Linked DNA regions of Homo sapiens: region 2 is linked to region 1. A link means that fine-mapping ties the variant in region 1 to the expression of a gene that starts in the linked region. Tissue or cell type: sun-exposed skin. Region 1 holds a variant in brackets; the other region holds the start of a gene. All regions are shown on one strand. Distances are from middle to middle.

Evidence for each region. PIP is the estimated chance that this variant, and not a neighbour inherited with it, causes the effect.
Region 2: LRIG3-DT starts here. The variant in region 1 is fine-mapped to the expression of LRIG3-DT in sun-exposed skin (GTEx, PIP 0.97).

Annotation. Positions count from the first base shown.
Region 1 is chr12:58,985,976-58,991,206 of GRCh38, forward strand. The region is part of intron 2 of LRIG3-DT (LRIG3 divergent transcript); the gene reads left to right. Among named protein-coding and RNA genes, the nearest start is that of LRIG3-DT, 68 kb to the left of the region's middle. The variant A/G (reference allele first, on the strand shown) is at 2,605.
Region 2 is chr12:58,918,355-58,923,585 of GRCh38, forward strand. It overlaps LRIG3-DT (LRIG3 divergent transcript), which reads left to right and starts at 2,350. Exons shown (of 6, transcript NR_183518.1): 1 at 2,350-2,436; 2 at 3,045-3,118. It overlaps LRIG3 (leucine rich repeats and immunoglobulin like domains 3), which reads right to left and starts at 2,150. Exons shown (of 19, transcript NM_153377.5): 1 at 1,646-2,150. The coding sequence starts at 1,881. RefSeq lists an enhancer at 1,047-1,316 and silencers at 1,697-1,776, 2,197-2,306, 2,925-3,034.

The DNA.
Region 1 (5,231 bases):
AGGTGGATTTAGCCACCATTATTAACATTAAGGCCAATGGTCTATACGAATTTCCTACTTAATGTGTGATAATGAAGGTCTTGGTTTTTTCTAAAAGCTCAGAATTGATTTTGGGTTCAAATTTCTAAACCAGACTACTTTGCTTTTTTCCCTTCCCCTCCTTCAATATTTCATTTCTTAAAAAATTCTTCCCATGTACCCCCAGAGACAAGTTCTTTGCAGGACCATGTGCTGTGGCATTTATGATGAAGAATATGCACTCCTACAATTGTATACAGACGAGGTTATCTTGAACTTTGGGCCATGTTTCAAGACACACATGTTTATTTAGACATCGGGCTTATCTAGTAATTTTTTGAAAATTGGAGAGCAGGTCTCTGTTTCTCTGAGATAGATCTATAGAAGATTTTGTCTACAATCTGTGATTAAAGATAGAGTTAATAATTTGAACATGGAATCTTTTCTTAAAATATGTAACAAATGTAGGAAGACAATTTTACAACAAAGAGCTCTGCTCAAAGTTCTAATGAAATTTCTTCTTATAAAAATATTCAGGATGGTATTAGGTATTATAAGTTTTCTCCTAGAGTTGTTTTAGGTTTTACATTTAAGTCTTTAGTCCATCTTGAGTTGGTTTTTTTGTATGTGGTGAAAGGAAGGGGTCCAGTTTTGATCATCTCCATATGGCTATGCAGTTATTCCAGCACCATTTGTTGAATAGGGATTCCTTCCCCATTTTGTTATTGTCGAAGATCAGATGGTTGTAGATGTACTACAGCTTTATTTCTGGGGTTCTCTAAGCTGTTCCATTGGTCTATGTGTCTATTTTTGTTCCAGCACTATGTTGTTTTCATTACTGTAGCCTAGAACTATAGTTTAAATCCAGGTGGTGTAATGTTTCTGGCTTTGTTCTTTTCACTTAGGATTGCTTTGGGTATTTGGGCTCTTTTTTGGTTCTATGTGATTTTTAGAATAGTTTTTTTTTCTAATTCTGTGAAAAATTTTGTTGGTACTTTGATAGAAATAGCATTGAATCTGTAAGTTGATATAGTCAGTATGGTCATTTCAACTTTAGAAGAAAACTTAAAAGAGATCATTCTGGATGGACACAGGCCCTGGCAAATATTTCATGATGGAAACTCTAAAAGCATTTCAACAAAAACAAAAATTAACAAATGAGACCGAATTAAATTAAAGAGCTTCTGCGCAGCAAAATAAATTAACAGAGTAAACAGATAACCTATAGAATGGAGGAAAATATTTGTAAACTATGCATCTGACAAAGGTCTAATATCCAGAATCTATAAGGAACTTAAACAAATTAACAAGCAAAAACAAACAATCCCATTAAAACATGGGCAAAGGATATGAATACACACTTCTCAAAGGAAGACACACATGCAGCCTACAGGCTTATGAAAAAATGTTCAGCATCACTAATTATTAGAGAAATGCAAATCAAAACCACAATTGAGATACCAGTCAGACTGGCTATTATTAAAAAGTCAAGAAAGAACAGATGCTGACGAGTTTGCAGAGAAAAGGGGATGCTTATACACTGCTGGTCGGAATGTAAATTAGTTTACCCACTATGGAAAGCAGTTTGGTGATTTCTCAAGGAATTTAAAACAGAACTACCATTTGACCAAGCAATCTCATTATTGGATATACACCCAACGGAATATAAATTGTTCTACTATAAAAACACATGCACGCTTATATTCATTGCAGCACTATTCATAATATCAAAGACGTGGAATCAAGTTAAATTCCCATCATTGGTGGATTGGATAAAGAAAACATATACACCATGGAATACTACACAGCCATCAAAAAGATTGAGATCATGCCCTTTGCAACAATATGGATAGAGCTGGAAGCCATTATCCTAAGTGAAGTAACAGGAACAAAAAACCAAATACTACATGTTCTCACTTACAAGTGGGAGCTAAACACTGAGTACACATGGACACAAAGAAGGGAACAATAGACACGATGGCCTACTTGAGAGTGGCAGGAGGACAATGAGATAGGAAGAGATTCATTTCTTTTATGAACTTAAGAAAACATCTTGTGAAGCTGAGATTTTGAGAAAAGAAATGAGGTAGTCTTTTGATAAATTGAGATAAAGAGGTTATTAGATATGTGTTTTAGCACACTTCCATTTCTGCTCATTACATACTCTTTTTCCTAATAAATTTCAAAGATTACAAAGCAACAAGAAACATTACAGAGAAAGGTTTCCTGTTTTGACCGATTTTACATATTTCTTTATTTTTTTACCAGATTGCTTCATCATTATTTTCCCTGTCTGATATATTTGGATGTGTCCCCAACCAAATCTCATCTTAAATTGTAACTTCCGTAAATCCCACATGTCATGGGAAGAGCCCAGTGGGAAGTGATTGGATTATGGGGCAGATCTTTTCTGTGCTGTTCTTGTGATAGTGAATGAGTCTCATGAGATCTGATGGTTTTAAAAACAGGAGTTTCCCTGCACAAGCTCTCTCTTTGCCTGCAGCCATCCATGTAAAATGTGACTTGCTCCTCTTTGTCTTCCACCATGATTGTGAGGCCTTTCCAACGACGTGGAACTGTAAGTCT[A/G]TTAACCTCTTTCTTTGGTAAATTGCCCAGTCTCAGGTATGTCTTTATCAGCAGTGTGAAAACAGACTAATACAGTGTCTATCCAGGCAATAGGATGAAAAGTCCCTGTTCATAAAGTCCTCTCTTCCACTGGAAGATGTTAAGGAACATCAGAGAGTGAGGGTTTGGTGCCTGTTGTCAGAGGACCAATGTTTCAATTATTGCTTTGGGTAAGTTAGGGAACTTCTGAGTTTTCTTATTTCTAAAAACGGAAGAGGAGATGATCTCATCTTCCTCTTTGGGCTGTTCTCAGGCTTAAGTGAGTTAATATGAAGGAAGGGGCCCAGCCTTTACATAGATGTTTGGGAAAGAGTCACCAAGACAGAAGGGAGAAATTACAGCATTTGTATAGAAAACAATATGGCATATTCTAGTTTCAAGTATTGCTATTTTTGAAACCAGCAGAACCATTGTATATTATAGGTTCTCTTCACAGGTTTTAAGTTACACTCTTCTTAATAGTATAATTGCATCCATTCACTCATTATTCATTTATTCACTCACTTAAATATTTATTGGTACCTAATTTGGGTCATGACACAGTTTTAGGTACTGGGTGTGAGAACATGAGCAATATGTAGAATGTTGAATTTTATATGCAGCTGAATTATCATATAAATGTGAAGGTTTGGTTATGTGTCTCAGAATATTTACTATACAGAGACCATCTCTGAAAGAATTCTTAGAGGATATAGAACAAGAAGATGAGAAATGAATTGAGGGGGAGAGATAAAATATATCAAGTTAGGTTATATTAAAATTCAGTAAAATGGCCAGGTGCAGTGCCTCACACCTGTAATCCCGGCACTTTGGGAGGCTGAGGCAGGGGCATTGCTTGAGCCCAGGAGTTCAAGACTAGCCTGGGAAACATAGTGAGACCCTGTCTCTACAAAAAATAAAAAGATTAGCTGACTATGGTGGCATGTGCTTGGATTCCTAGCTCTTTGGGAGGCTGAGCCAGGAGGGTTGCTTGAGCCCAAGAATTTGAGGCTATAATGAGCTATGATCATGCCACTGTGCTTCAGTCTGGGCAACAGAGCAAACTGTGTCTCTAGAATAAATAAATGAATATAATGTATTTTTATATAAATGAGGAAAGATTAAAAGGGAAACCTGTATATCCACAAAAATCTCGCAGAACAATTTCAGATAAAACCCATATGGGCCTGAGAAGGATGGTTGTGGAACAGATGAAGTAAGAGCATATTGAGCTTCCCATTGTATTCAAGGGAACATATGGATATTGAAAACCTCAGACACTAATTGGAAAAAAATTAACATTAGTCTTGGCCTCAAAAAGAGAAGAATAAACATGGCTTTTATTACATTTAAACTAAAAAATGAAATATTCTATCTATATCCAATGGAGCCTAGAAAAACAAAAAAAAGGGGGGAAAAACACGGAGTGTTTCATAGATAATACAAAATATGCCAATAGAAATCAGTTTTAGTATAACTAAAGGAAATATGATCTATAAATTCAAAGATCAGAAGTCAATCTGGCTGGATCTAAATATAATATTCAGTAATATTTTGGATAATGAAGACATACTTAAAATGATGCAAAAATGTTGAAAATAATGGGATAGAAAAAGATTTTCCAGGCAACTAGGAACCATGTGCTTAAAGTAAAACAAAACAAAAAAGTTTCAAAAAAGACAAAGAAGATCATTAGATCCAGAATTTACAGAGGCCAAGAATGCAATGATTTGGAAGGTAGACTAAAAGAAAAGAGCAAATAAATAAGAGCCAGTGATGCTCTTGTAGGAGGGAAAGGAATGGGATCGAGATTTTTATCTATTGGAAAAAATGGTATAAATCAGATGGATGTACATGAACTAATGGTGATACATGCCATGGCCAATTATGTCCACTGATGTTCAAAAGAAGCAAAATAAAGCAAGGTGATGGGAAGGGGGGATATGTACTTAGAAGGCTATGGGGCTAATTAGGAAGCCCTTGGATTGTTATGAAGCTTGCCGTATTATTTGTCTAACATACTGATGCAGAGATATCCTAATAACTACTTAAGGGAGTTATATAAATGAGTGAATAAGAGCAAGGACGTTGGTGTCAATGAGACATGGGTTGAAGTTCTTACTATATCTTGTGTTTGTGGTCTTGGGGGAACTGCTTAATTCAAGCTTTGGTTCTTCCTTTTTAAACATCACATTATAGGGATGATATGAGGATGAAATGAAATAATGCATGTAAACTGTTTAGCATAGTGCTTGCCACGTGATACTGTCAAGAAAAGAGCATGTTTGGAACAATTTTCAGGTCTCTTTAATTTCTCTGACAATGCCTATTATCATTATTTTCACTTCACTGCATATGTAATTCTGGGTCATAACTTTATTCCTCAAAACTGTCTTGCTGTTTTCCCATTGTCTTAGAAATTTACAGTTGCAGAAAAGGATGAAAGATGCCAGATTTATTTTTAGGACACCTGTTTCCTCAGTTTGGATTAAAAACATATATTTTCTATGTCTTTGAATTCCAAAAATTTTGCTGAAATTCATGTAAGTATGGGTGCTTTTATCAGTAGTTTAATCTCAAACATGTGTGACCTTTCAATCTACCTATGG
Region 2 (5,231 bases), 68 kb before region 1:
CGAACCCCTTTTGGTTCAACTCAACTTCTGATCAAGGGCAACACAGATTTTTTTTCTAAACATCTAAATCCAGGAAAAAAGAAAAAAAGTACTGCACACTAGCATGATCACAATAGACAACTTGACATTGAAAAACTATCGAATACAAGTTAGATGCCGTGAATAATCTAAGCATATCTAAATACACTCCAGGAAGCACTGTATTCATTTTCTCTTTCTCATCCCTCTATTATTCCTAAGTGTTCACCTCCAGTCATTTACATGTTCAGTTCCATATGTTGTCAATAGAGCCATTCACTCATGAATAAGGCAGCATGACCTCCACAAGAGGCAATTTAACAGAATTAGCCACAACTAATTGAAAGTCTCCCTGCTTTCGGTTAAAGACCTTATCTCCTCTTCCAATTGCAATAAAAACTACTAAATAAAACGTCCCAAGAAATTAAATATCAATCCAATACTAATTCTACTTTATTAAACTAAGGCTTATTAAAAACACAAGGAATATACTTTCTGATGGCCAACAATTCTACATTCACAAAAGTTATTTAGATTAGCACAATAATTTTAAAATATAAATTCTTAAACACCTGACCAAACCTCCTACCACATTAGGGCATTGGAATAGTTCACTAGAATTGTTTTAAAAACTTAAAATTTTCATTGCAATTCTGCTAAGTCAAAATATAAGATTACGTATGAAGTGCACTTTTATTTTAAACAGAACAACTACTTTAAAAAATACAAATTTTGATTGTTTACTTTTTACAGCACTCCAATTTTAAAACTGGGACTGAGGAAGAAAAGAGATGACATTTGGAAAAGATCAGCATTTCCAACTAAATTACATTTTCTTCCTTGTTCTTCACGCAGTTGGCAGTGATTTCAGGTTTTCAGACTTCGCAGCTAAAAATCCAAAAACTTGCATAAGAGCTCCCTGCGCTCTCCCCTAAACCGTCTGGGCGTTCTGAGGAGCTACAGAAATCACGCCCTTGATTCTGGATAATCGAGTTCCGCCCTTTCCATAGCTACCGACCAGTCTTTACAATCTGGTTGAGGAGTGGGAACTTACGGTCTGCTAATGTGAAAAAGCAAGCAGAGGGAGAACAACAGAAGTACGTCCACCATAACTTGGAGAATGACCGAATTCTGTTGAGGGGGCTTCCCAAATGAAAAGCCTGACTTCAGTTACTGGGTGGGAACAGGAAAAGGAGTCTGACGCAGCTAGAAACTAAAACTGAACCAGACTCATAACTCAGCGAGAACTGCAAACTCCTGATGTGTGCAGGTTGCCGCTTATCTCCCCTGGGCCTGGCAGGAGCAAGCATTTGAACCCCTTGGCTAGCTTAGGGCGCAGGACTTCATCCCCAATCTCTGGCGTCGTTACTGGCCCCCAACCCTGGTCTACCTGCAGCCAGTTAGGACGCGCCAAGAGCCCACCTGCGCCGCCCGCAAAGCACGTGGGAGGGAAACTGAGGCCCGGACAGTTCTTTTTCCACGCCCACGGAGCGCCGATCGCGGCCTGGGCCAGAAGGAGCTATACGGCAAAAAGGGGACTGCACGCCGAACCCCATTCCCCGCCGGCTCCTGTTTTCTCGAATCTCCAGCGGCCCGGGCCCCCTCCCCCCGCGGGAAGAATACTTACAGCCGAGCGACCCAGGACGGGAGTGGCTCGGGAAGACGCGCTAGCCGCTTACGACTGCAGTCCAGCAGGTCCCCGAGGCAGCGGCAGGTAGTGGGGCATGGGCGCTCGGCGGCTACCCCAGAGGGCTGCCCGAGTTCCCCGCGACCGCCGCTGTCTGACCGGCCAGCGCGCCCCAGCACCGCGCACAGCAGCAGCCCCAACCCCGCGGCGCGCGCACGGAGGCTCGGCGCGCTCATCGCGGTCCAGCGGCCTAGGTCTCTACCCGAAGCTCCCAGCCGGCGCGCGCTCGGGGCCCGGCACAAACTTCCAGCCGAGGGTGCACGCCCGCCCTCGCGGTCGCGTGCGCGCTCCTCCCTCGCGCTGCCCGGTCAATTCCTTCTTTTACTCCCGGCGGCGAAGCCCTTTCATGCCCCCAAACAGCAGGAGGGAAACCGAAAAGAACTGCCAACTGCAACAGAGTTGCAGCTTGAGCAGCGTCGGCTCGCCGAAGCCCCTTCTTGTCTGCAAAAGAAACTTTTTCGCCTCCACCCCGCGGCACTGCGCCAAGTCCCCGCGCGGCGGAGTAGCAAGGCGGGCGGGTAGAGGCCGACGCGCGCCCATTGGCCGACTCGGCTGCGGGCGTCCCCGTGGCCACGTGACAATAACACCGCTCCAGCCGGGGGCCTACGCGCGGGAGAAAGTGGAGCTGAGATTGTAGGAAATTCAGAGTTATATTTTCCAGCCTCTCCAGCCAGAAGTCTCCACTACGTCGTGGGAAACATATATCAAATGGAGTTGAAAGGCAAAAGGAAGTGAGCAAATACTGGGCTAGTTCTCGGAGTTGGAGGTATTTAGGAGAACTTCAGGGAAGTAAAGTTTAATTAGCAGTGTTTTCAGGAAACTTTTCAATTCCAAATTAAAGACACTGATAAATTATCCTACCATCCACAGATGAAAGAGTGGTTTCAATGAAAACAGCTCTTTCAACGTTAATGCTGGTGGGTGTTCCCCCATACATCGGCTTCAAAAGTAAAAACAATAATAAAACGTAAAACTCGTGGTTTTGGAAAGTGTATATTGAATTACAAATAGCCAGCCTTCGTGCACTGGATAAAGCTGGGCGGGGTGGGGGATGGGAGATGACCTTCTAATAGACCTCGATGGCAATCATAGATTCCTGGTAATAGTAATAATAAAAGTAGTCACAGTGACATTTCAAAGTAAAATGAAAACTAAGACCTTGGAGGAAAAAATTAGTATATGCACCTTGGTCCACTTGCGCTTTGAGTAATGACACATGTTGATTGAGAATGCTACCAGGGTAAAAGTACCTCCCGGCCTCCTCAGCTGGGGGAGTGGATGTTTGGGGCTGGATTCAGGCTACAGGACTTCCCAGTGAAGTTTGTTCCTTAACTTACAGGTGATCAGCGCCACAAGATGTTGAAACTAATGGAGACCGCAGAGATCATGTGCTAAGGGGCCTTCCTCCTCTGGGTAAGGAAATAGACCTAGAGAACGTAACTAATGTGTTTGTTGCAAAAAAAATAAAAATAAAAGCAAGACAGAAAACATGAACAAACCAAAAAACAAACCCTGGAAGCTTAAAGTAAGTTTTCACTTCTATACATTGTTTATTGCATGCTGTCTGCCCAAGCTTGTCTGTCCTTGGAGTTGCGTAAACTGCTCATGATTGAGGAGTGGAGATAGCTTGTGGAGTTGAGACTTTAACCCTGACTCTAAGGCCCATTGATTTTTCACTGTAGCAAATCACTCCCACTTACGGGGGAAGGAAAAGACTCACTTTGAAGTTAACACACCCTATTTTAGATATGGTATCCCATTTTCTTATTTCCAGCTACCATTAACAACAACGCTACTACCTTTTTGGATGATGTATAATTATAATTAGAAAATATCTATAATGATGGCACCTTGGTTTTGAATTTATGATTTTGTCTGCTTGGGAGTAGACAAAACACACTACAGTCATAGTAAGGATTTTCCAGCTCAGTATCCCCCATCTATTTTTATTTATTTTTTTTATTTTTTTATTTTTGAGATGGAGACACTCCAGTCTGTCACCCAGGCTGGAGTGGGGTGCAGTGATGCGATGTCGGCTCGCTGCAACCTCTACCCCCTGGGTTCAAGCAATTATCCTGCTTCAGCCTCCCAAGTAGCTGGGATTACAGGTGCCCACCACCACACCCGGCTAATTTTTTTGTATTTTTAGTGGAGACAGGGTTTCACCATGTTGGCCAAGCTGGTTTCTAACTCCTGACCTCAGGCTATCCGCCCGCTTTGGCCTCCCAAAGTGTTGGGATTACAGGCGTGAGCCACCACACCCGGCCCCCCATCTATTTCATACAAGGAAAATTAGGTATAATTCATTGAAGTTTTTAAAAAGAAGAAAGATTCCATTGTACACATGCCATTATGCATAAGCAAGGTAACATCAGTATGGAGGCTTGCTCTTGAGACATGAGACATATGACAGGGATATAAATGTGCTACCATTTTGGGGAGTTTTGGCTCATTTCCTTTTCTCATTCTTTATTCTCCTTGTATAATTTCATCTTCTTCCATGAATTCCATTTACATTTACATGCTGACATATACAACATCCATATTTCAGCCCAGGTCTTTTTCCTAAACTCGAAATCCATATGTGCAATTACCCACAGGTCATTAAAAATTGGATGTTCAAATGTAACATGTCTAGAATTAAATTTCACCACCCTTGAAACTGACTTGTTTCCTCCTGAATTCACTGTCTTAAAGAGTGGATACTTCCCTCCATCCAGATGAATGCCCCAGAAACCTGAAAGTCACCTTAACATTACTTCATTCTCACCACCACCACCACCACCACCAGAGTCAATCAATTAGCAAGTCATGTTAAAGCTAGCTCCTAAATGTATCTTCTCTCTGTAGAAATTATGCAAATCCAGACCACCAGCAGCTCTTGCCACCTATCAGGCATTCCACTGCTTTCTCCTCAGGGCAGTTAAGTGATATCTCTGAAGGTCAAATCTGAGCCTGTGACTCAACTGACCAGTTCTTTTCTTGGGTTCCTAGTGTCTTGAGAATAAGGTTCAAATTCTTTAGAGTGACTTATACAGTTTTGTTTGTTTGTTTTGGCATTGAGCCTCTATTTATCTCTTTAATTCATTGTCTTTCATCATTTTTCTCCTACTCTAGGAGCTACTTGCAATTCTCTTCCCAGCTGTACTCTTGCCTTCAGCCCTCTTGCAAATGGTTCTTCTGTCCAAATCATTCTCTGCTCCTTCTTCTGCCTGGTTGATGGCATTCCTTCTTTGGCAAACACTTCCCTGAGTCAGGTTTAACTATCTATACCTCCAGTATACTTCCAGCACATCAGTATTGACTGGAATGTAATAGACCATTTTCACTCTAACCCCCAGGTAATACTACAGAATTTTCCGATAACCATGTATTCCTTATCGCCTTTAAGGGTTTTACCAGCTATTGTGAAGTTAAATTACCTAAGTTTTCAGTACCCCAGTTTCTCAGTCTGTAAATTGGGAATACAATAAAAAACGATCTTATCTGGCTGGCTTCCATTTATCAGTTACTGGATTAGCAGTCA